Linked DNA regions of Homo sapiens: regions 1 and 2 are each linked to region 3. The links come from fine-mapping of genetic effects on gene expression. A gene starts in region 3. Each other region holds a variant in brackets. All regions are shown on one strand. Distances are from middle to middle. Region 1 overlaps LOC105376621 (a long non-coding RNA gene). Region 2 holds the start of LINC00294 (long intergenic non-protein coding RNA 294). Region 3 holds the start of TCP11L1 (t-complex 11 like 1).

Region 1 (8,181 bases), 860 kb after region 3:
GCATTTAAGGGGGCAGGTCAATTGCCTCCTGGCAGATCACCTTTCTCCCCGGCCCTGCCCTCCCCAGATTTGGGCACCTGCACTTGTTATTCGGACCTTAGCAACTGGATTCTGAGCCCTTGTGTTCCTGGTCTGAGTTCCTCCCTGTTGGTGACATTGGCTGAGCCCAATCTCTAGGTTAGGACAGCCTGACAACTCATTGCCAACTCCTGGTGATGGTTCTGTTTTGGTTTGGCATAGTCTACCTGGGACTGTTCCCCAACTCTGGGTAAGCCCTTTGTAACACCTGAGCCTCTCCCCCTAAAACTGAGCACTATCATGTAGAAGTTAGGAGCACAGCCCCTAGTGTCGGACCGGCTGTGTTTGAATCCTAGTTCTGTCCCTTGCCAGATGTGTAACCATGGACTCGTTATTTTAGCTTGCCATGCCTCTATTCTATTCTATTCTGTTACCTGTAAAAGGTAGGAATTATAATGCCCATTTCATGGTGGTGGTGTAAGGATTCACTGCGATAAGACCAAAGAGATGGGACCTTCTCTCTTGAGAACTTGACAGTTAGGTCCAAAGGAGTGTGAGTAAAACCCAAGTGCAATTTAGGCAGGTGACAATAACCACAGAGCCCAACCTGATGGAATAGGCAGGAAGTTGTATGGGGAATTGATGGCAACAGAGTCAGAAAACAGAGCGGTAAGTATTAATGCAGAGAAAAGTGAGATCCATAGGCAGAAATTCTATGTAAGGCCAGGCTCTTTGGCTCACACCAGTAATCCCAGCACTTTGGGAGGCCGAGGCGGGAGGATCAATGTAGGTCAGGAGTTCAAGACCAACCTGGCCAACATGGTGAAACCCCATCTCTACTAAAAATACAAAAATTAGCCAGGCTTGGTGGTGTGCGACTGTACTCCTAGCTACTCAGGAGGCTGAGGCAGGAGAATCACTTGAACCCAGGAGGCAGAGGTTGCAGTAAGCCAAGATCACACCATTGCACTCCAGCCTGGGAGACAGAGAAAGACTCTGTCTCAAAAAAATAATAATTAAAATTTAAAAAGAAGAAATTCTACCTAAGAGCCCGAAGCTGCCCTCTGCCCTCTCCCGTCTCCTGCAGGACATGGCGCCAGCTCCAGGTTAGGGTAATCTGGAAACTAGCCTTGAGTGAAGGGGCTGAAAGGGCTCAGGCAAGTGGGACAGGATTTATAGCCTGCTGCTGGAGTTCTGAATAAGGACTTGAGTCCCCCTTCCCAGGATTTAGAAGGGCCAGGGAGGTGGGTTAGCACCACCAGAGCAGGGAGGTGTAAAGGTGCAGCACAAAGCTACAATCTGAACATAGCACCCCCTCATCTCTTGGTACTTGGCATGGTTGGCTCCTTGGCACCCATCTCTCCCCCTTGATAGTCCCTTGGAAAGCCATTCCTTCCTTACTCTTAGTCCCTGTGTTCTTGGTGGAGTTCCCACATCCAACTTCCAGAGTAGGCCACGTGAGCATGCCTGGCTAATCAAAGCATGGTGCCTCCCAGGCCACTGGGATTGGTTCAGAGAAGGGTCACCTTGGGTAGCTGATGTTGCTGCAGCTATCTTGCCACCGTATGGAGCCAAGACTGAAAGATGAAATAGAGCAGGGCAAGGAAGAGAGGCCCAGGAAGACCAAGTCCTAATGACATCGTTGGAGCCTTCGAATCCAGCTGTGCCTAGAGCCAGCCCCTAACCCTGGAGTTTTCAGTTACATGGATCAATAAATTCTCTATTAGCTTAAATCACCTTGATTTGAGTTTTCTATCACTATTAACCAACAGCATCCTAATCAAAGGCTAAAGCAGCTGAAAATAGCCTATTTCCAGACCGCATGTGCTCATTAATAAAGAGCAAGTTCCTGTGGTACCATGAAGCCATGATACCATTGGCCTTGTGTCTGGATAAGGCTCAGGCTAAAGATGCCTGACATTACTATAAATACCTGGGCAGGGGTGAGTTGGCAGAGCAATGACCAGGGATACAGAAAACCAGGTTTTTCCTGATGCCTTATATCCTGCTTTAATATCTCCACCTGCCAATGAAGGAGTTCAATTGGTTGCCGCCATTTTAGAGAGCATAATGGTTATACTTTACCTTCAAAAAAATCTATTTTCTATCTATCTATCTATCTATCTATCTATCTATCTATCTATCTATCTATCTATCTTGCCATGGAAGAACCAAGGCAAAGAAAAGTGTAAAGATGATCCTACCAATTGTCCCAGAAGACAGCCCCTGGAACAATCATAAAAAGAATCCCAAACCCTTTGAACTTTTTTGTCTATGACAAATAGCAAAAGCATCCATTGCTGTTAAATATCTGTTACTACTACTCATTCCTTCCATCTTACAGATGTAAAAGTTGAAGAATTAGTTGCTGTCTTAGTTAAATTAGAATAGCTGCTTAAACAAGGGATCTCAAAATATATAATGACTCCACATCCTTGAAGTTCACTTCTTTTCCCCTAATAGTACTGGATTGGTGAACAGTTGGCAGGGCAGGCTTCTCCCGTGTAACTGTTTAAAGATCCAGGGAGAGGGAGGCTCTGCTGTCTTCAACGTGTGAGGTCCTCTCAATTCCAGCCAGTTGGATGGGGAAGGAGCATGAAGGAGCAGTGTGTGGGAAACCTTTATGGGCCAGACTTGAAAGTGATGAACGAAACTTCCAATCTCGTGCAATTGGATAGAATTCCGTCACGCAGCTGTAGCTAAATGCAAGAGAGTCGGAGCCAGCTGTGGTGGCTCACACCTGTAATCCCAGTGACCCTGGAGGCTGAGGAAGGAGGATGACTTGAGGCAGCAGTGAGCTATGATTGCACCACTGCACTCCAGCCTAGGCAACAGAGCAAGACCTCATCTATCAAAAAAAAAAAAAAAAAAAAAAAGGAACGGAGTCTGAGAAATATAGTTTATCTTTGTGCCCAGGAAGGAGAGGAAAATATGGATTTGGTGAGCAACTATTAGTCCCTGCTACACCATGCAGTGTTTCCTTTCTGAATTTGAATGGCACTTTGAGCCTGCAATTTCATTTTAGTCTGTTCTGTGCGTCTTTGCAATGCCCAATAGATTTGATAGTATAATCCCCACCCTACAGAAGTGAATTATTTCCTTCTTATATCTTTAGGTGGATACTCAATACATATTTATTAAATGGATAAGTCAATTCATAAGGTAAAAACAAATGGAGCCTGTTAAAATATGTTGTTTATTAGATCACTCTTTAGCCTTAGAAGACTTTCTTAGAATGTTTGTATGACTAGCCATCTTCTTTTACCATTTTTGTTTTATAAATACATAAATATCATAGAAAGGAAAATTTCAGGAAGTAGAAACATATACTGATGTTTTTTCCCACTAAACTCAGCTATTATCAAGTGCCTGTTAACTTTTGCATTCCTTTGTATGTTTAAAAAAAAACCCTACTCCCTTATCTCTTGGTGCCTCCAGAATGCAAAAATCCCTGAGCTCTCAACTTACGAATCTCCTATAAGGCTGCTGGAGCTTGGATGTTAAAAGTCCTCATGAGGGCTTTTCAATAGTATGGCTTCCTCTTGCAACATTGGCACCTCACTTTTCATTTAAAAACATTTGCTTATGTGCTTTTCAAAGTGCTTTTATAGCCAGGGTCTGATTCAGTCCTTACAAGTCTGTGAAGGTGGCATGAGGTCATCATCACCCCTAGGACCGAGAAGGGTTCACACATGAAAGTGAGCGCAGAGCTAGAACTAACACCTGGTCCCTCTGCCTGCCATGTAAACCATCTCCTGGAGGAGTGCTGTGTTAATGACCTCAGATCGGCTCCTTCCTCACCCCTTACTCCTGTTTTCTATTCCAGGTCGGAAAAAGGCAAAAAAAAACACAAAAGAGCAAGATCAAAGTATACCTCTTTACCTCTAACTAACACAGAGCCTCTATCCAACCCCAGAAGTGGTCCCCCACCAATA[C/G]ATGAGTCTTTTGTCCACTCAACTTTCTGCCTACCTTATTTATCAACAAGAAGTTTGCACAAGTTCTCTTTGTCAGCTAAGAGGCTTTCTACTATTACAGGCTGCCCCTTACGGGAAGTAGACCCTTTCCCTCCTAGCCTTTAGAATTGTGTTTTGAATATAGCAGACCAGAATTTTGATTAGATTTGTTTTTTCAATTATACGGTGGTTCCCTCACTTTTATAATCACCTAGAAGTCACTGTTGGCAACATGTCACTAGGGGCTTAAAGACAGAAACTGGGTTGATTTCCACATAATGATCCAAACAAAAAAGGCTGAGGAATGAATCCTGAACCACGAAGCCCACTGCAGTTTACGTAAGTGGTTTATGTTGAGACGCGGCCATAGCAAATTTCCCTGATTTCTGAGCATTTTCCTGTGGATTATTTCTAACCTGCACATTTTTTTCCATAGCCAGATTTGCCTTGACCCCAGGGGTGAACATTTAGAGAGCAATACTTCTCAGTCGCGGTTCCCATGATGCTATCAATTCCATTGTAGGGCCAATAATTAATTATAACAATAAGAAAGACATTATTCAACTAGGCCTCCCTTCCTGCCATTAAATCCACAAAACTCCCTGCCACCTGGGCAGTTGTTGATGTGTGTTTCTGTGTGTGTGTGTGCATGTGTGTGCACATGTGTACTTAAAATAACCGGATTAAAATTGTGTGTAAAATACACAAATGAAAAACTTTGAAAAAGAAAGCATCAAAATAACTAAAGTAGTTGTCTAAGAGTGGTGACGTTAGTGGAAGACGGGTCTGTTACTCTCTTTTTCTATAATAACTATTGTAGTGTTAGTACTTAAATAACTAAAATTCATACTATCAATTTTACATTAATTCAACATAAAAATTCTAAGTACTTTACTATTCCTCCAATGTTTATGATGTATCTACTACATGCCAGGCATTGTCTGGGTCCTAGGGATACAGGATGAATAAGACACAGTTCCTTCCCCCATAGGGCTTCTACTCAAATAAGGGAGACGAACATAAACAAGTAATTAGATTGGTTTATTAATTAATATGTGATATGGTTTGGATCTGTGTCCCCACCCAAATCTCATGTCAAATTATAATCCCCAATGCTGGAGGTAGGGCCTGGTGGGAGGTGATTGGATCATGGGGGTGGTTTCTCATGGCTTAACACCGTCTACCTTGGTGCTATCGTGGCGATAGTGAGTTCTTGTGAGAACTCCACCCTCTCTTGCTCCTGCTCTGGCCACGTAAGACAAGCCTGCTTCCCCTTCGCCTTCCACTATGATTGTAAGTTTCCTGAGGCCTCTCCAGAAGCCAAGCAGAGGCCAGCATCATGCTTCCTGTACAGCCTGTGGAACTGTGGGCCAATTTAAGCCTCTTTTCTTTATAAATTACCCAGTCTCCAGGATTTCTTTATAACAATGTGAGGACAGACTAATACCAAGCATACAACAAATATTTTTGGAGCACATACTATGGTCCTGAATACGTTTATATGCTTTGGATCAGCAGCAAATGAGGCAAGCAAAGACCCTTGCCTTCATGGAGCTTGTGGTCTAATGGATATAGATCATCATTTGTTTCTAATCATAATGACTGTAGTGAAGAGAAAGTGCTAGCGGGGGACCTGACCTAGCCTAAAAAGCCTGGGAAGACCTCCCCAAGGAAGCAACATGATTTTAAGTGCTTCAAGTAAAATAGGGCTTTGTTTTGCCATCCAGGACAGAGGGGGCTGCCCTGGATGTGGCAGGAGTTAATTCTGGTGGACACTGAAGTCTGTCTCTCAGTTCCATCTGCCGCAGAGTGTAGCCTGGTGCAAGAGCTGCCCTAGGCAACGTGTGGCCTCTGGGCCTTGGGCTGACCGTGTGTAAGGGGATTTGGAACCAAGTTTCCATTAGTAGTCCCTGTCCATTTTTGCTCCCATGCACTGTTTCTGGTAAGTCCTGATATAGAAACCAGCAAGGCCATCCTTCCCTTGCAGCACAGACAGTAACTAATGGGCCTTTCTTCTGCAGACGGGAAAACTGGAGCAGAGAAGACAAATCCAGCCTGAGCCAAGAGGCCTCTGCATCGCTGGTCAGGAAAAAGCAACTGCTAGATTTCTGGTTTGCCCCTCAGACCGTGGAGCTCCGGGTCACCAGCCTGAACCGCTTAATGCACATCACGCCTGGGTTTAGTTGGAAATGGCTGAAGGCACTTAAATGGAACTCCCAACCTTTGTCCTCAGCTTCCGAAACCACAGGTAAGTATTGAGGTCTGTGTTGTATCGATCATGCCTCCCACCGGCATCAGGAAAAATGCTGTGAAGCAAGTCAACTTTCTAGTGACAAGGGAAGTCATTCTCCTAATCCACTCTCACTGGACAATCAGGTTGACAAAAACCATTAAGTTTTCCGAGATTAGAAATTCACTGTCAGAGGGAGCCGTGTATAGAGTTTTCCACTCCATTACACCCAGGACAATAACCAGAGGCCAAGTGACAGAAAAAGCCTGGGGCTTTTTTAAAGTTTCCTGTGTCCTTGAGTAGAGAAAAATAAATTCACAAAGTGTCTCCTTTTTGTAGGATGTGGGTTTGTATATCCTCTCATTGATCAATGCAACAACCTATGAGGAGAGGTCTGTTTATTGCATTTGACAGAAGAAGAAGCCGAGGTTCTGCAGGAATAGGTTTGCTATCTAAGATCACCCAGCTAGTTAGTGTCGGATGGGGCTGAGAATCAGAGTCAGAAAACTGGAGGGGTCTAGAGACTAAATGACCTGCTTTCTTCTAGGCAGAATAGCACTTTAGCCATCCTTGAACCCACTTTCCCCGGAAAGACCCCACGGTTCTGTAGCAAGTGGTAGCGGGCTGGGACAGGGGTTAAGATCACAGGCTGTGGTGCCTGACGGATTCACATCCACGCCCCAACTCTGCCTCCCACCGTGTGCCTTGAGGCAAGTTCTTTCCCCTCTCTAAGCTTCCTTCTCCTCCTCTTATTCGTAAGAAGATAATAACCTAAAACACTACCCCATAAGGGTTCTGAGGATTAAATGAGATCACACTTGTAAAGCATTTAGCATATTGACCGGCGCATGGCAAGTACTTTGAAAAACAGAAGCCAGTCAGCAATAGGAAGTGGTTTCTTACTTATGTCTTTACTATAAACTTACATAAACACAGAACTGAAAGTTTGGAAAACCGAAGAAAAGAAAAAATCACCTATATTCGTAACAACTGTTACCATTACAATATATTCCTTCCGGTACTTTTTTCCAATGAATCTATTTTTTCCCACATATATAATTTTTTTCTGTAGCATTGCACTCCATTCTTTTTCACTTAAAATTGTATTAAAATCATTGATTCATATTGCTGTAATTTTTCTTTTCATAACTGTACTGTATCTTATCATCCGAACATAACCATAATTTTCTTATCCATTCCTCTATTGCCTGACATTTGTTTTCAATGTCCCTTATTATAAATAATGCTGGCTCAAGCCTGTAATCCCAGCACTTTGGGAGGCTGAGGCAGATGGATCACCTGAGGTCAGGAGTTTGAGACCAGCCTGGCCAACATGGTGAAACCCTATCTGTACTAAAAATACAAAATTAGCTGGGCACGGTGGCACGTGCCTGTAATCCTAGCTACTCGGGAGGCTGAGGCAGGAGAATCACTTGAATCTGGGAGGTGGAGGTTGCAGTGAGCCAAGATCATGCCATTGCACTCCAGCCTGGGCAACAAGAGCATAACTCCATCTCAAAATAAATAAATAAATAAATAAATAACATTAATAATAATAATAAAATAAAAATAAATAAAGTGCTGGGATTACAGGCATAAGCCACCACACCCGGTCTAAAATCTGACAAAACCAAGTGTTGGTAAGAACATGAAGCAATAGGAACTTTCATTCACTGCCAATGGGAATGCAGAGTGGCACAGCCACTTTGAAGAACTGATGTTATCTACTAAAACCGTTAGAAATGCCTATCCTATTATACAGTAATCCCAACTCAAAAGCATATATTCTAAATCAAGCATTAGAAAACTTTTTCTGTAAAAGATTAAAAAGTCAATATTTTAGGCTTTGCAGGCTATGTGGTCTCTGTTGCAACTACTCAGCTCTGCTGAGCAGGAAAGTGGCCACAGACAATGCAGAAAGAAACTGGCGTGGCTGTGTGCACTAGAACTTTATTTATGGACACCAAAATTTGAGATTTT
Region 2 (8,181 bases), 37 kb after region 3:
TGGCCTCACCTCCTGCCCTCCCTCAGACAGCCTTGTCCCTCACCCCTCCCTTCTGGTATTTTTGTTAGAAGGGCTATATAACGTCTTATTGCCATTTTCTCCCCCTATTTATTGCTTCCTCCCTGCCTGGCCTAGCCAGGGCTCCCAAGCCCTTTTTTCTAGAGGAGAGTTATTTGTCTCTCTCTCTTTTTTTTTTTACTTTCTTTTTTGTATTTAAACATTCTTTTAACCTTCCCCCAAAGATACAGTTATTGGACTTTAAAAAGCTTGTTCTTTTATACAAAATTACTCCTGCATCTGGTTGAGAGCAGTTATGACTTATGAGATCTAGTGAAAGGAAAGTCTTTGACTTTCAAGCCTTGAAAGTCAAGGAGGAAATGTATTGAAAAATAGTTTACTGTAATGTGAACGAAGAGAAATGTCTGGAATTCTTACTGAAAAATTGACCCTGAGACAATACACAGATGTGATGATTGAATTAAATTCTGGAATTAGATTTAACTGTTTTCAGATAAAATAGCTTGAGTTCACGAATCTCCTAGATGAGGAAGTCATAGGAAATCCCTGGTGTTTGAGCATTATTTTTCAAGGAACTTCAGTGACCAGAATTCCTGACATGTCCTCTGAGCGTGAGTGATTTGGGTCTCATAGACGATCTGTTCTTTTTTTTTTTTTTTTTTTTTTTTTAAAGTGTACACATGTATGTCTGCATTTTAGACAGGGATGTTATATTAGAAGCAGAGCCATGAAGTTGGAATGACCAACTGCCACAACAGCAAGGGGTAAGACTATATTACTGTATGAGTAATGCAGTAATATCGGCACCTGAAGCCTTCTGTACAGGAAGCTAAGAGAAACTTACAAGTTAGCCGGGCGTGGTGGCTCACGCCTATAATCCCAGCACTTTGGGAGGCCGAGGCAGGCAGATCACCTGAGGTCAGGAGTTTGAGACCAGCCTGGGCAACATGGTGAAACCCCATCTCTACTAAAAATACAAAAATTAGCTGGGTGTGGTGGCACGCGCCTGTAATCCCAGCTACTTGGGAGGCTGAGGCAGGAGAATCGCTTGAACCCGGGAGGCAGAGGCTGCAGTGAGCTGAGATAGCACCACTACATTCCAGCCTGGGCAACAGAGTGAGACTCTGTCTCAAAAAAAGAAAAAAGAAAAGAAACTTGGAAGCCATTTCAGAAAGACTCCAGGAAGGCCAGCAGCCACTCCTGCACAACCAGGGGGAAGGGCTACATTTTACTGCAAGCAGCTGTTTTCTCTGATCCTTCTTTGTAAGGAAGTGCAGTGATTTTGTGTTTTGAAGGAAGACTTGAAGAAGCAGTTGGGTAGGTATTCCAATAGGACTGATGGGGAGGAAATCAGATACTCCATGAGAAGGATTTCAGACCTGGTAGAGTCAGAATACATTCTGCTTTCAGGATTTTTGAGATTGCTGATGGTCCCAGGGTTTATACAAGGACTTGGATCTGGCTATAGAAACTCAGGTAGAAATTACATGTATGCAGATCAGCACTGATGTTGGTTCTAATCTATAATGATGTGATAAATTAAAAAAACAAAACAAAAAACAGGGCTGGGCATGGTGGCTTACACTATAATCCCAGTACTTTGGAATGCCAAGGCAGGAGCATCATCTGAACCCAGGATTTCAAGTCCAGCCTAGGCAACATAGTGAGATCATGTCTCTACAAAAAATACAAAAAAAATTAGCCTGTTGTGGTGGCACACAGTTGTACTCCCAGCTACAAGCTGAGGCTGAGGCAAAAGGATCACTTGTGCCCAGGAGTTTGAGGCTGCAGTGAACTATGATCATGCCACTGTACTCCAGCCTGGGTGACAGAGCCAGACCCTGTCTCTCCTTAACAAAAAAAAGTAGAGCCAGATGTATCTTTTTGGGTCCCAGGCAGGAGACTGGAGAATCTGGGTCACTGTAATCTGGCAGACTGGCTGCATTTTGTGAGGGTACTTTTATTCATATTTATTTATTTTTGTTTGTTTGAATGCATTATTATTTTTTTAATAGAAACCACATCACTTCATTTGTTACAGCGAATAATTCAAGAGGGTCCCAGAAAGCTTTTTCATCCACAGAATTACAGAAAGGATAAGCACCCTCACCACCCAAGCCTTTGGTTCATTTTTTATTTTTTCAAGACGGAGTCTTGCTCTGTCACCCAGGCTGGAGTGTGGTGGCGCGATCTCAGCTTACTGCAACCTCCATCTCCCGGTTTCAAGCGATTCTCCTGCCTCAGCCTCCTGAATAGCTGGGATTACAGGCACGCGCCACCATGCCCGGCTAATTTTTGGATTCTTAGTAGAGACGGGGTTTCACCATGTTGGCCAGGCTGGTCTCGAACTCTTGACCTCGTGATCCATCCGCCTCGGGCCTCCCAGAGTGCTGTGATTACAGTCGTGAGCCACCACACCCGGCCTGTCTTTAAGTTTTATACTAGTTAGGAGGCTAGTCTATCAGAATGTCCCTAATTTAGCTGAGGAACCTAGACAAGTCTTCCTTGATTTCAGCTTCATCCCAAGGCCTCTGAATATTTTCTTTAAAAAGCTGCAGGCGAATGAGGTAAAATGGACAGAGACATGAGATAGAAATCAACAGAAGGGCAAAGAGTACGGCTCCCACAGCACTAATAGGCAGTAGGCCTTCCAAGACCGAAAAGGCAAAAAGCAGTGTGACCACCACATAGCCCTTGGGAGTCCGTGCCTTTAGTTTCTTCTGTAGCATGAGCCACAGGACAAAAATCTGGATGGCAAGTGTTCCCATGATGAAGACATGCAGGGACTGGGGAAGGTGGAAGCCAAGCATCCAGAAGCAAAGATGGCCATGTTCAAGGATAGTGTGCTGGATACAGTGGATACAAAGGCATCATTGGCACCATAGTTAAAAAAGATGAGGTGGCCTACCAGCATGAAGACTGACATGGCATAGATGGTGTCAGTGCTGACAGACTCTGTCAGGGTCTTAGCACTGGTGAAAAGCCATAAGTGAAAGTAATGAAGACTAGGGCACTCTTCAGGTCAGCCCACCGGGTCCACCCACTCTTCTGCCCTTCACCTCCATCAGTGAGATCAAACAAAACATACCCAATCAGTGAAGAAGCCAGGCCAGTCCCAAAAAGCCATTGGGGGGCCAGAAGACCCTCATCCATATACCACCAGATAACCAGAAAAACAAAAACACTGCACAGCTGCGGGATCACCACACTGGACTCAAATACCATAGCCCAATATTGGTATTTCCGAGCATGGATGTTTTTCCAGAGCTCTTCCAGGAACCGCCGGTCCACAAAGTTATCAGGAAAGGGCTGTTGCTCATACAAGACCCTCTGCCACTTTACCTCCTTGGTGTTTGTTACAGGTTGGGTACACATAATCCTTTCATTCAAACTCAGGCTAGTTTAATCATCCCTCTCACAGAGGTCCATGTGGTTCTTGTTGATGACATTTTGAAATGAGACCTCCCTGGAAATTCCATGCCTTGGTTGATATTCTGCTGACCTTTCCTTGTTTTCAAAGGCAGCAATCCAGGCCAGGCCTACAATAGATGAGTTTGTCTCTGAGGCAGGATATAATACAGCCAAGTTCCTGGGGATGCGTGACTGGGAGATGGCAGTTGCCTGCCTTTTTCCTTGTAAGGGTTTTTTTTTTTTTTGAGATGGAGTCTTGCTCTGTCGCCCAGGCTGGAGTGCAGTGGCGCGATCTCGGCTCACTGCAACCTCTGCCTCCCAGGTTCACGCCATTCTCCTGCCTCAGCCTCCCAAGTAGCTGGGACTACAGGCGCCTGCCACCATGCCTGGCTAATTTTTTTGTATTTTTAGTAGAGACGGGGTTTCACCGTGTTAGCCAGGATGGTCTCGATCTCCTGACCTCGTGATCCACCCGCCTTGGCCTCCCAAAGTGCTGGGATTGTAGGCGTGAGCCACTGCGCCCTGCCATGAGGGTACTTTTAAAGAAGATAACATCTTCCATGGTGTATTCAATGAGGTCGTGTCTGGAATTGTTCCCTTAAGGTGGAGGCTGCTCTGTGGCCACTGTGCCTGGCGGTTGTATGATCCTGGGTTCCTGGGCAGAGAAGCCTCAGCCTCAGAGTGTTTGGGGCCTTTTCCTGCCGCTCCAAGGCTGAAGGAGAGGAGCTTAACCCCAACTGCACAGCGCTGATCACCACTTCCTGCAGTCATTCTTCCTAAATCTCAAAAACTCTTCTTTTGTAAGAGTAGATTCTTGCAAGATATTTTTCCCCTCCTGAGTTCTTACATTGCCAGAGTTCCATTTGGACCGTTTGAAATCTTGATGCATGAATAACTGGCTTCACAGACTCTTGGCCGCCCACTACCTCGGTGTCCACTGGTGGAGTTCTGCAACTGGCAAAAGTCAAGAATGAAGGAAGCAAACTTCAGAACCACAATATTCATATTGAATCATTTTGTTGTTGCTCTATGAAGATAAGCTAATTTTCTTCCTGGAATCTCATAGGATTATTACTAAGGGCCAGGGAGATCCACTTCGTTCATTTAGTCACTCAGGAAGCATTGCTAAGCATCCCCCTGTACCTTCCCCTACAGCTCTCCTTCCAAAACGAAACATCCTTTGGAGTGTGTTGTCCTCCAGAATCGAATGGATTCTATATGCTGCATTCAGTAACAGGTTGTGGAGACAAGTGTCTTTTCCTGAAATTGCTAAGTGTATTTGGCAGTACTTTACTACTTGTGGATAGAACTGAGAGTGAGGTCAGTATCACCAAGCCTCTTGGATTTCTTCAGTAGTCTCATGGATAAGTGAATGTTTAAAGTAACTACTACTTTGTTGGCTCTTGGTTGGGTGGATGGATTCTCAGTCCTGGTGTTTTTAAAAATCTCATTCCAGCCGGGCGCGGTGGCTCACGCCTGTAATCCTAGCACTTTGGGAGGCTGAGGCGGGCAGATCACCTGAGGTCAGGAATTCGAAACCAGCCTTACCAACATGGCAAAACCC[A/G]TCTCTATTAAAAATACAAAAATTAGCCGGGTGTGGTGGCACGTGCCTGTAATCCCAGCTACTCGGGAGGCTGAGGCAGGAGAATCACTTGAACCCTGGAGGTGGTGGTTGCAATGAGCCGAGATTGCGCCATTGCACTCTAGCCTGGGTGACAGAGCGAGACTCCGTCTCAAAAAAAAAAAAAATCGCATTCCGTCTAAAGCAAGCTACAAAATGTGATTATTTATGTCACGATATGACCCAGCCATAAATGTACTTCAGGTAAGAAGGACACTGACATGATATCTTACTGATCAAATGCAGTCAGTAGGTATATATGAACTTTTTTCTCTGTGAAGAAAAGCTATTAATAAGTTTGACTTAATAGGCCTATAGTATGCACATACTGGCCAAGATTCTAAATGGATTATTCAGCGGTTCTGTTTTTGTGGAGGTGCTTATTCTCATTTCTCCAAAGCCTTAAGATTCCTGGGAATAGAGGAAATGTTGCTGCCACCAGCTTTGCTGGTGAATTTCAAAGAGAATAGGTGTTTGCTGTTTGATTTCTAGTGACCTTTTGGCGAGCTCTGATTTATAGGTAGAACATTTGTGTTTCTTTTCATTTTGAGGCCAGGTGGTAGAGTGGAAAGACTGGGAGCTGTCAGGAAACCAAGGCTTGGATCTCCACTCTGTTATGTACCAGCTGGGGCAAATCAGGGCCCATTCCCAACTCCTTTAAAATGAAAGGACTAGACTTGGTCTTTAAGCTCCCTTCCGATTCTAACATTTGGTGGTAGCAGGATTGTGCACAAAGCTCCTAATTTAGAGAAAGATCTGGGTTTTAGTCTTTTCTCCTCTATCGCCGCCTTACCGGTTGTACAACATTGGACCAGCCATTCTCCCCAAGGCCTCGGCATTTTCATTGTTAAATGGGAACACTCCTAATTCACACTGTTGCTGTGAGGATTACATTTGGTAATGAATGATAGAATGCTTTGTACATGGAAAAGGACTATACCTTTCTTTTTTAACTACAAAGGCGAACATGTAACCCTCTACCTGTGGGCGCACATTTGCTGTGGTGTTACGTTCCACTGGTAGCGCCCAACCTCCCTTCATTCAAGCACATTTTACGGGCCTACAGGGAAGGTTTTCTTCCTGTCCTCTCCTAAGACTTGTTTATGTTCATCATCTCTTCTATACTAGAGCTGCAGTCTTACATTTGCTTACTTCCTGACATCCACCCCCACCCCAGTGATTTCTCCCCATCTCCACCTCTATATTATTTGAACTAAATGAATTCATGAATGAACAAATGAGTGGATGAATGAATGGTAATGGATAATGGGCTATGAAGTCATATTTAAAGGCACTATCTCATTTAAAAACAATCTAAATAAATAACTACAATGATATTTGCAAGTGTGTATTTATATTGGATTTTGCATTATATAATTATTTTAATGGAAAGCCTTTTTAGTCATAGTATTCAAAGCAACTTCAATGGGTGGGGAAGGGGATAATCTTTAAGCCCAGGTAAGCTCTGTTTATTAAACGATCAAGTGTTCACTGGTACTTTCAGAAATAGCCAGAGTTCTACAAAATATGTGTTAAAAGTCTAAACATATAATTCTACTTAAAACTGTCCCTCATGTGGGTTTCTGTCACACCTGACTTACATTTATTGCCTACCGAACTTAAGAACCAGAACTAAGCTATAGGCCTGGTTCGATGGAGTGTCACTTTTCTTGACTTAAAAGTAACCTTAAAACAAGAGGGGCTGGGCAAGGTGGCTCACGCCTGTAATCTCAGAACTTTGGGAGGCCGAGGCAGGCAGATCATTTGAGGCCAGGAACTCTAGACCGGCCTGGGCAACATGGCAAAACCTTGTCTCTACTAAAAGTACAAAAATTAGCCAGGCGTGGTGGCATAGGCCTGTGCTCCCATCTCAGCAGGCTGAAGTGGGAGGATTGCTCGAGCCCGGGAGGCAGAGGTTGCATTCAGCCAAGATCATGCCACTGCATTCCAGCCTGGGTGACAAAGTGAGACCCTATCTCAAGAAAATAAAAAATAAAAAAAAGAAGGGCTTCACATGGTGGCTAATCCCAGCAGTTTGGGAGGCTGACGTGGGAGGACTGCTTGAGCCCAGGAGGTCAAGACCAGGCTGGACAACACAGGTAGATCCTGTTTCTACATAAAATTTAAAAAATTAGCTGGGTATGGTGGATGGTGGTGCATGCCTGTGGTCCCAGCTACTTGGGAGGCTGAGGTGGGAGGATTATGCTGTGATCATGTCTCAAAACAAACAAAAAGACTTATGAAAATTTTTGTTTTCTTTTGTTTTGATTGTTTGTTTTTGAGATGGAGTCTCACTCTGTTGTCCAGGCTGGAGTGCAGTGGCACAATCTCAGCTCCCAAGCTCAAGCAATTCTCCTGCCTCAGCCTCCCCGAGTGGCTGGGATTACAGGTGTGCGCCACCATGCCCGGCTGATTTTTGTATTTTTAGTAGAGATAGGATTTCACCATGCTGCCCAGGCTGGTCTTGAACTCCTGACCTCAGGTGATTTGCTCGCCTTGGCCTCCCAAAGTGCTGGGATTATATATGTGAGCCACCGTGCCTGGCTGAAATTTTTATTAAGTAAAACGTAAGTTCACTTGCTCATTGCCACAGTCAAAGAACTACCATGTTAAAAAAAATAATAATAATAATTTATGACCATGATGACTATGGTTTAATAAAATTGAACTCAACATTTATTAACTATAGGCCAATACAGGGTTATAATATCAAATAAATTCATAATTATTGACCAGGGTCAATATACTAACAGAAATGATGTGTTTTTCCTTCTTTTTCTTTGGTACAGTTTGGTTGTTCAGAAAGTTTACTAGTAGTTTCTATTAACCTTTTACTGTACTAGATGTGGCCACATAGGTGCAACCTCTTGTTTGAAGTTTAGTGGTAAAGGCCAGAGTTTGACTAATTTTTGTTTAGGAAGGACATACATATAGTCCTTGAAACTTTTGTCTAGTTCTAGAATCTTGAGGAGATGCTGTCATTGCTTTTATAAACAGGAAAAAGATGGATATCTTTTGGCAATTTCTTTGGGTCCAGCAATACTGATATGAGTCCTTGGAATTGTAGGACTGATTATCCCATGAGTCTGCACATTAGATTTCCAAAGGTAAGTTCAGATGTCTAACATCAT
Region 3 (8,181 bases):
AATACCTATGATACCAGTTCTAATAACTCAGGGAATAACTCCGTTTTTTTGGATAGGTAAGAATGGAAGGGCTGGGCGTGGTGGCTCACGCCTGTAATCCCAGCACTTTCAGAGGCCGAGGCAGGTGGATCATCTGAGGTCAGGAATTTGAGACCAGCCTGACCAACATGGTGAAAACCCGTCTCTGCCAAAAATACAAAAATTAGCTGGGCGTGGTAGCGGGTGCCTGTAATCCCAGCTACTCGGGAGGCTGAGGCAGGAGAATCTCTTGAACCTAGGAGGCGGAGGTTGCAGTGAGCCGAGATCGTGCCATTGCACTCCAGCCTGGGCGACAAAACAAGACTCCCTCTTAAAAAAAAAAAAAAAAAAAAAAAAAAAAAAAAAAAAAAAAGGGGAAGGCAGCTCTCTTTACAGTGAGGGGAAAAAGAAGATAAGTTTATGATTTAAATGTGAGAGGAAGTTTTCAGAAACAAGCTACTGGAACTGTGGTGAGATCAGCACGGTGGGCAGAGCAACCGTGTGCTATCTGATTTGTAACCTTTATTTTGCACATAATTGAATAGCATATTTATTTGACAACCTTCAGGGGAAGGCAGAACTGCTTAGTTACATTCATGCTTCTAGGAGAAGCAACATTCTAATAGAATGATAATTTCAGGGAAAATATACTAGTAAAATCAATTTACCTTAGGCCTTATAAGGAGGATAAAAAGAAAAATCGATCATGTTTACTGCAACCATTGTCAAGGTTTTAAACTACAGGTCCAGTGCTACCTTGAAAGCCTTGGGCAACCCTCCTCAGTCACTAGAACTGTTGATTATCTTTTGCTGTGTGCTCTCATTCATTCACCCATGACGCCTTCTTGGGGACCCATTCCCACATAGACACCTAATGCCTAGTTGACCGTAAGTCTTGCCATCATCCTAGCAGAGTAGACCAAGGTTGAGCACCTGATCCAAGGGCAGCTTCCCTGGAGGCTAATGAGACTAACTTTGTTCAAAAATCAGTTTGGCCAATCAAATTCTATATAGGTAAATTTAAATTATGAGGCGCGTCAATTAAGAAAGTACAGAAACCAGCCTGTAGCATAAAGAGTGGAATGGACTACAGCAAGCAGAGATGTGACAAGAGGGATCCTGTGTGTACAGGAGCAGTAGCCGACCTCTAGAGTGGCTGCCACCTTTCTCCCTCCAAGTCCTATGTCCTTGCAGTGAACTCCCTTTACCTTAACGTAATTTGAATTTCCAGTCCTTGCAGCCAAAGATCAAAATGGAATGTGTCTATATGTATTTTTTGAATATTGAAACAGTACAAAACATTAAAAGATTACAAGTGAAATATCCCAAATTAAATCAGTGATTTTGGTATTGTTGCAGTATCCTCTCCAGGTGGAACTTGAGTATATTCATTCACTTGCTCCTAACCAAGTGAAAATTGGTTATATTAACCTTTTTTTTTTTTTTTGAGATGTAGTCTCGCTGTCTCCCAGGCTGGAGTGCAGGGGTGCGATCTCCGCTCACTGCCACCTCTGCCTCCTGGGTTCAAGGGATTCTCCTGCCTCAGCCTCTCCAGTAGCTGGGATTACAAGCGCCTGCCACCATGCCCAGCTAATTTTTGTATTTTTAGTAGAGACGGGGTTTTGCCATGTTGGCCAGGCTGGTCTTGAACCCCTGACCTCAGGTGATCCGCCCGCCTCGACCTCCCAAAGAGCTAGGATTACAGGCGTGAGCCATTGCACCCAGCCATATTAATCTTTTAAGGAAGGTTCTAGCCTGCTTCCCCAGGGAGCTTTTAAAACTTGTCTGGCATCACCCTCCCCGGAGTTTTGGATGATACTTTTCCAACCCCTGCCCCTGAGATTCCAAGTTGTATTTGTAGTCAGGGCTGAAAAACACTAGAGACTTAATGGTACGAGTTTAGACTCAGAAGAACTGCATGTTTTCTTTGCAGATCTTTTTTTTTTTTTTCAGACGGAATCTCACTCTGTCACCCAGGCTGCAGTGCAGTGGTGCGATCCCGGCTCACTGCAACCTCTGCTTCCCGGATTCAAGCAATTCTCCTGCCTCAGCCTCCCAAGTAGCTGGGATTACAGGCATATGCCACCATGCCCGGCTAATTTTTTTGTATTTTTAGTAGAAACGAGGTTTCACCATATTGGCCAGGCTGGTCTCGAACTCCTGACCTTGTGATCCACCCACCTCCGACCTCCCAAAGAGCTAGGATTACAGGTGTGAGCCACCGCGCCCAGCCATTCTTTGTAGATCTTAACAGTTCCATTTAGTTGAGTATCTTAAGGGTTTTTGGTGTTTTTTCCTCCAAAAAGTGAATCTTCACCAGAGAACTTCTGTTTTTGTCTTTTTTTTTTTTTTTTTAAAGCAAAGACTTTAATGTGCAAGTTAGTAAATGGTTTGAGGGTCTGGTATTGCACTCGGCCTTCAATACGTTAGCAATAACTACCCACATGTGATCTATTTAGAAGCAGTGTTTGAAAGCACCAATGTCACCCCATCTGCTTTTTTGTAGTTTTTTTTTGTTTGTTTGTTTTTGAGACAGAGTCTCGGTCTGTCTCCAGGCCGCAGTGCAGTGGCGCGATCTCGCCTCACTGCAACCTCCGCCTCCCAGATTCAAGCGATTCTCCTGCCTCAGCCTCCCGAGTAGCTGGGACTACAGGCGCGCGCCACCACACCCAGCTAATTTTCGTATTTTTAGTAAAGACGAGGTTTCACCATGTTGGCCAGGATGGTCTCGATCTCTTGACCTCGTGATCCGCCCGCCTCGGCCTCTCAAAGTGCTGGGATTACAGGCGTGAGCTGCTGCGCCCGGACTAACTTTTTTTTAAAGCTGAGGAAATGAGAGAAGGGGAATAAACTTTGTGTAGCTACAAACAGGATGGCAAAATTAAATTTCAAAGAACGGGCGGGGAAGGTTTCAGATGCAATGGCTTCTTATTCCTTCTTTTGACTGACCCGCGCCTTCTCCGCCTCCCTTTCTCCTCGCGTCACCCGCACCAGCGGCTGGGATGCGGCGCGCGTTCCGTCTTTCCGTATGGAAACATGGCGCCTAGGGGCGGGCCATCCCCAGCTTCGAGCCACCGCCAGCTGAGACTCATCGGCGGGCACTCGGCCATGCCTCTCGCGTTTCCGTACGAAAACATGGCGCCTCACTGCGTGCGGCGGGCGACTCTTGGCTGGGAGCCACTGGCCACGGAGCCCCCTGAGCGGTCATCGGCCATGTTTTCCACCTCTCCCTGAGGAAACACGGCGCCGCCCAGCTGCGAGTCACCGCTTACTGAACCCCTTCGGCAAGCAGGGGAAAGACCCTCCCGCCTTTCCGTACGAAGACATGGCGCTGCCCTATATTGGGCTGGCGCCTCCCGGCCAAGAGCAGTCTCCTCCTTCCTGATGCTGAGAAGCGGCCGCTCTGACCGCTGCCCACCCGAGTCGGGCTGGGAGGACCGCCCGCCGCGTGGCGAGGGATGCGGCCTCGGAGGGGCAGAGGCTGAACCGCCCCTGCCTGCCGCGCATCCCTCCGGCTTCCGCCGCGGCGCCAGCCCGCGCCTGATTCGCGGCGGGAGCGGCAGGAGGGAGAACGCCGACTCCGTGGCAGGTGAGAGCGGGAGCTGGGGCGGAGGCTGGCGGGGCCCGTCCGGGAGGCGCGCGGTCCAAGTCGCAGGCATCTCTTCGCCTCTTCCCGTCGGATCCCATCCCGGGATGTCGGGGGCAGGCGAGGAAGAGGCGGGGTCCGCGGGCGGGTGGAGCTCACCCCTCGAGGCTGTCCTCTCGGCGCGCCCGCGTCCTCCCCTACTCCCGGCCCTGCCACTCCCTCGCTGGCCTGAACAGCTGTTTACAACGGAATCCGGACGCCGGGCGCGAGTGGAGCTCAGTGCCAGAGGAGGGGATTCCCGGCGCCGGGGGACAGAGCCCCTTTTTTCTTTTGCCGAAAGACCCTTTCTGCTGGGGAGCCTCTTGTGTCCAGCCTAGGCCCGCGTGCAGCGCCGACGGATGACCGTCTTCTTGGCAAGTGCGAGGATCCTCCTCCCCTCGGCTCTCTTTTTAGACACAGTGGGGGTTGAATGGATGCGCGCGATATAAGCAAATTAAATGGTTCGTGGCCGCATCCTAGAGCCCTTTAATTAGAGTTACCATTTGTAGAAGGCCTGCCGTGCACAATCCCTCGTTTCATCTCCCCCCAAACCGAGCAGGTAGGTAGCTGTGTTTTACAGAGGAGGACACTGAAGTTACACAGCTAGTAAAGAGCCAGAATTGGGGCCCAGGTATGTCTGAAACCAACGCCCAGCCTCCCAGATACAGTGACATCACAGAGATGACGTAGGGATTCATCTCTATCAACAGATACTTGTGGGTGTCTATTTGGGGGATATACAGATGGAGCATAAGTGGGGAATATGACTGGTCCTGGCTCTTAAGAAGTTCGAAATCTAGGTGGGGAATTTTAAAATAAAAACTAGCACTTTTACCATCTGGCCCCAACGCATCTTTCCATCATCTCTAGCCACTTCCTTTTCTCATTTTCTTGTGCCTTGGCTTCTGCCCTCTGAGTGAAATGCCCTCCTTTTCACCTCCTCTCCCCCTCCTCTCCCCCTCCAGACATGTTTTAACTAGGTGAAATCCTACTCCTTTTAAAGATCAGTTCAAATGTCATCTTTTCTGGGAAGGTTTTCTCAATCTCCTCCCAGGCAGAGTTAGTTTCTTCCTCTGCTATATTCCCTGGGCAATTTCATAATGCCACTTAAGTTTCATTATGGCTCCTTGTAAGCCTGTCTGCCTCCCCCTCTAGACTATGTATTTGCATCTTTCTATTTAAATAAGCACGCTTTGAATTGAATTTAAGGCAGTGACAAATGCCAAATGTCAACTAGCCAGCCCTGCAGGAGTTGAGAAAGGTGCAATCACTGGTGAGGTCCGGGAAGTGTCCTGGGAAGAGACAGGACTTGAACTCAATCTTAAGGATGGGGTTAGTTTACTAAGCTGAGCATTAGAGACCTAGAAATCCTCCCTTTCCTCCTCACTGCACAGAATGAATTACTTCATCCCTCCTGGGCTCCTTCTCAGCATGTGAAGATAATAAAATTAGCAGCGTTTTGTTTGTCGTTTCTCACAGAATATGCTGGTAATGTTATCCTTTGGATCTTGGAGCATTTCCTGACCCTAATAGGATTTAGGACACAGAGGAGATGGGTGTCTCCAGTGGGGTGTTGGAAGCTAAGATGGGTCTCGAAAGGGAAAATACATGAAAACAACTTTCATATTAATACAGGCCTGGGCCAGGTGCAGTGGCTCACGCCTATAATCCCAGCACTTTGGGAGGCTGAGGCGGGCGGATCACTAGAGGTCAGGAGTTCGAGACAAGCCTGGCCAACATAGTGAAACCCCATCTCTACTAAAAATACGAAAATTAGCGAGGCGTGGTGGTGGGCGCCTATAATCCCAGCTACTGGGGAGGCTGAGGCAGAAGAATCCCTTGAACCTGGGAGGCAGAGGTTGCAGTGAGCTGAGCCGAGATGGTGCCACTGCACTTCAATCTGGGGAACAGTGCAAGAGTCTGTCCCCAAAAAAAAAACAAAAAAACAGGCCTGAATATTTCAATCCCAGTAACTTCATTCTATTTAATGGAGTTCTCTGAAATTTCACATAATTCTATCAGGTGATTCTTCACCTCTCTCTAATATGCAGAACACAGTCTGCCAAACTCCCTAAATCAGTTGACATTTCTTTTGATCACCTGATTACCTTCCATGTGTGTAAGAAAGTCTAATTAGTGTTTATGAAAATGTTTTGTGATCTTCAAGTGCTGATGTTACAAATGTTAATTATTTTCAGCAAATGCAGAAACATTGTGTCTTCTCTCCCAGAAACACCCTAGGAAAAGGGAGAGTGGAGGAATTGACTAAAACTTTTACTGTAATTAAAACAGGGTTTTTTTGTTTGTTTGTTTGTTTGTTTAGACAGAGTCTCAGTCTGTTGCCCAGGCTGGAGTGCAGTGGTGCGATCTCGGCTCACTGCAAGCTCTGCCTCCCGGGTTCATGCCATTCTCCTGCTTCAGCCTCCTGAGTATTTGGGACTACAGGCACCGCCACCATGCCAGGCCAATTTTTTAATATTTTTAGTGGAGACGGGGTTTCAGCGTGTTAGCCAGGATGGTCTCGATCTCTTGACCTCATGATCCGCCTGTTTTAGGCCTGTTTTAGGCTGGGCACGGTGGCTCATGCCTGTAATCCCAGCACTTTGGGAGGCCCAGGCAGACCTTTTATTAACTGCTCCAAAGCACAGTGTCAAGTGTTATTGCTATTCTGATCAGCAACTAATAAAAAGCCCACCCAACTGCATACATTATGGTTGTTTGCAGCTTCTTACTCACAATCTTTTTCCTAATTACTGGCAAGAAGGTAATAAAAATATTTGCCCCACACATTCCTCTTAAACATTTCATAAGATTCTGTTTTCTGTAGGGCGCAGTGGCTCATGGCTGTAATCCCAGTACTTTGGGAGACCGAGGCAGGTGGATCACCTGAGGTCAGGAGTTCGAGACCAGCCTGACCAACATGGTGAAACCCCGTCTCTACTAAAAATACAAAATTAGGCCAGGCGCAGTGGCTCACGCCTGTAATCCCAGCACTTTGGGAGGCCAGGGCAGGTGGATCATGAGGTCAGGAGTTCGAAACCAGCCTGGCCAACATGGTGAAGCCCCATCTCTCCTAAAAATACAAAAATCAGCCAGGCATGGTGGTGGGCGCCTATAATCCCAGCTACTCAGAAGGCTGAGGCAGGAGAATCACTTGAAACCGGAAGGTGGAAGTTGCAGTAAACTGAGATCGCACCACTGCATTCCAGCCTGGATGAAAGAGCGAAACTCTGTCTCAAAACAAAACAAAACAAAAATTAGCTGGGCGTGGTGGCACCCACCTGTAATTTCAGCTACTTGGGAGGCTGAGGCAGGAGAATTGCTGAAACCTAGCAGGCGGAGGATGCAGTTAGCTGAGATTGCCCCATTGCACTCCAGCCTGGGCAACAAGAGCAAAACTCCATCTGGAAAAAAAAAAAATTCTAGTTTCTGTCATCTCTGGGTATCTTATTCACATGATAATATCAAGGAATCAACCCTTTAGCCCAGTGTATTCACTTGTAAGCCCAATTAAAAGCATTATTTCCAAGGAGTTTACCTATCTGCTCTTAGGAATGAAAGTAAAGAATTTAAGATTGAATCACTGATTAAAATTGTAGCAGCAGGTAGTTTAGAGTGTGTCTTCTAATAGTTTAAGGCCCTGTATTCTTGAAACATGCTACTTAGGAGTAGGACAAAAATATTCCAACTAACTACTACGTGAGATCCAGAAATCTGATAAATTACAAATGTCATTTTACAAGTATCTGTTTAGTCATTGAAGTAGAATATAGCTGGATAAGATCTTAGCAAGCTCATTTATTCTACAAACGAGAAAACTGAAACCCAAAGAGGTTAAATGATTTGCCCTGAGTCACATTGCTAGTTGGTGACAGAGCTAGAATACTTTTAGTTCTTTTTTTTTGTTTTTTTCTTTCCTAGGAAAGTGAATAAACTTAATTGAGAATGTCTGAAAACCTTGACAAGTCCAATGTAAATGAAGCAGGAAAATCAAAATCCAATGATTCTGAGGAAGGCCTCGAAGATGCTGTGGAAGGTGCTGATGAAGCCTTACAAAAAGCAATAAAGTCAGACTCCTCCAGCCCCCAAAGAGTGCAGAGACCTCACTGTAAGCAAATTTGACTTTGGTTAGATGCAATATTGTCATTGTTTTCAGGTGACGGTTTTATGAGGCCTCCTTGTGCATGTGGCCGTGAGCTAGGTTCTAATAATATAACATTGCCAATGTAGCATTTAGGAATAATAGCAGTTCCTCAGCTGGCAGCCTAGCTACTTGTGGATTTTCAATTGCATGGGAAATTAACAATTTAGAATAATGTCCAGAACGTTCCTGTCTTTCTCCAGCCTCAGTGACACTCCAGTCTCTGAAGTGCTCTGAGAAATAGGAGGGTGGAGTATAAATTGCAGCTTGTATTGAAAGAGTGTTTGAAAAGTCTGAGGCTAATTCCAGCCAGGACTGTGCTTGTGCAGGTTAAAAAAAAATGTGAGTAAGTTCACCACACCCTAATTCTCTGCCTGGGGGCTTAGTTCCCACAAGC

What was found.
Region 1: its variant is fine-mapped to the expression of TCP11L1 in uterus (GTEx, PIP 0.95).
Region 2: its variant is fine-mapped to the expression of TCP11L1 in whole blood (INTERVAL, PIP above 0.99).

What each region holds. Positions count from the first base shown.
Region 1 is chr11:33,900,617-33,908,797 of GRCh38, forward strand. LOC105376621 (a long non-coding RNA gene) reads left to right here. Exons shown (of 3, transcript XR_931176.3): 2 at 5,993-6,219. Among named protein-coding and RNA genes, the nearest start is that of LMO2, 13 kb to the left of the region's middle. The variant C/G (reference allele first, on the strand shown) is at 3,954.
Region 2 is chr11:33,073,068-33,081,248 of GRCh38, forward strand. It overlaps TCP11L1 (t-complex 11 like 1), which reads left to right. Exons shown (of 10, transcript NM_018393.4): 10 at 1-483. LINC00294 (long intergenic non-protein coding RNA 294) reads left to right here and starts at 3,083. Exons shown (of 1, transcript NR_015451.1): 1 at 3,083-6,387. It also overlaps the pseudogene PIGCP1. The variant A/G (reference allele first, on the strand shown) is at 4,994.
Region 3 is chr11:33,036,186-33,044,366 of GRCh38, forward strand. TCP11L1 (t-complex 11 like 1) reads left to right here and starts at 3,387. Exons shown (of 10, transcript NM_018393.4): 1 at 3,387-3,607; 2 at 7,565-7,751. The coding sequence starts at 7,589. RefSeq lists enhancers at 2,790-3,337, 3,058-3,407, 3,888-4,207 and a silencer at 3,388-3,787.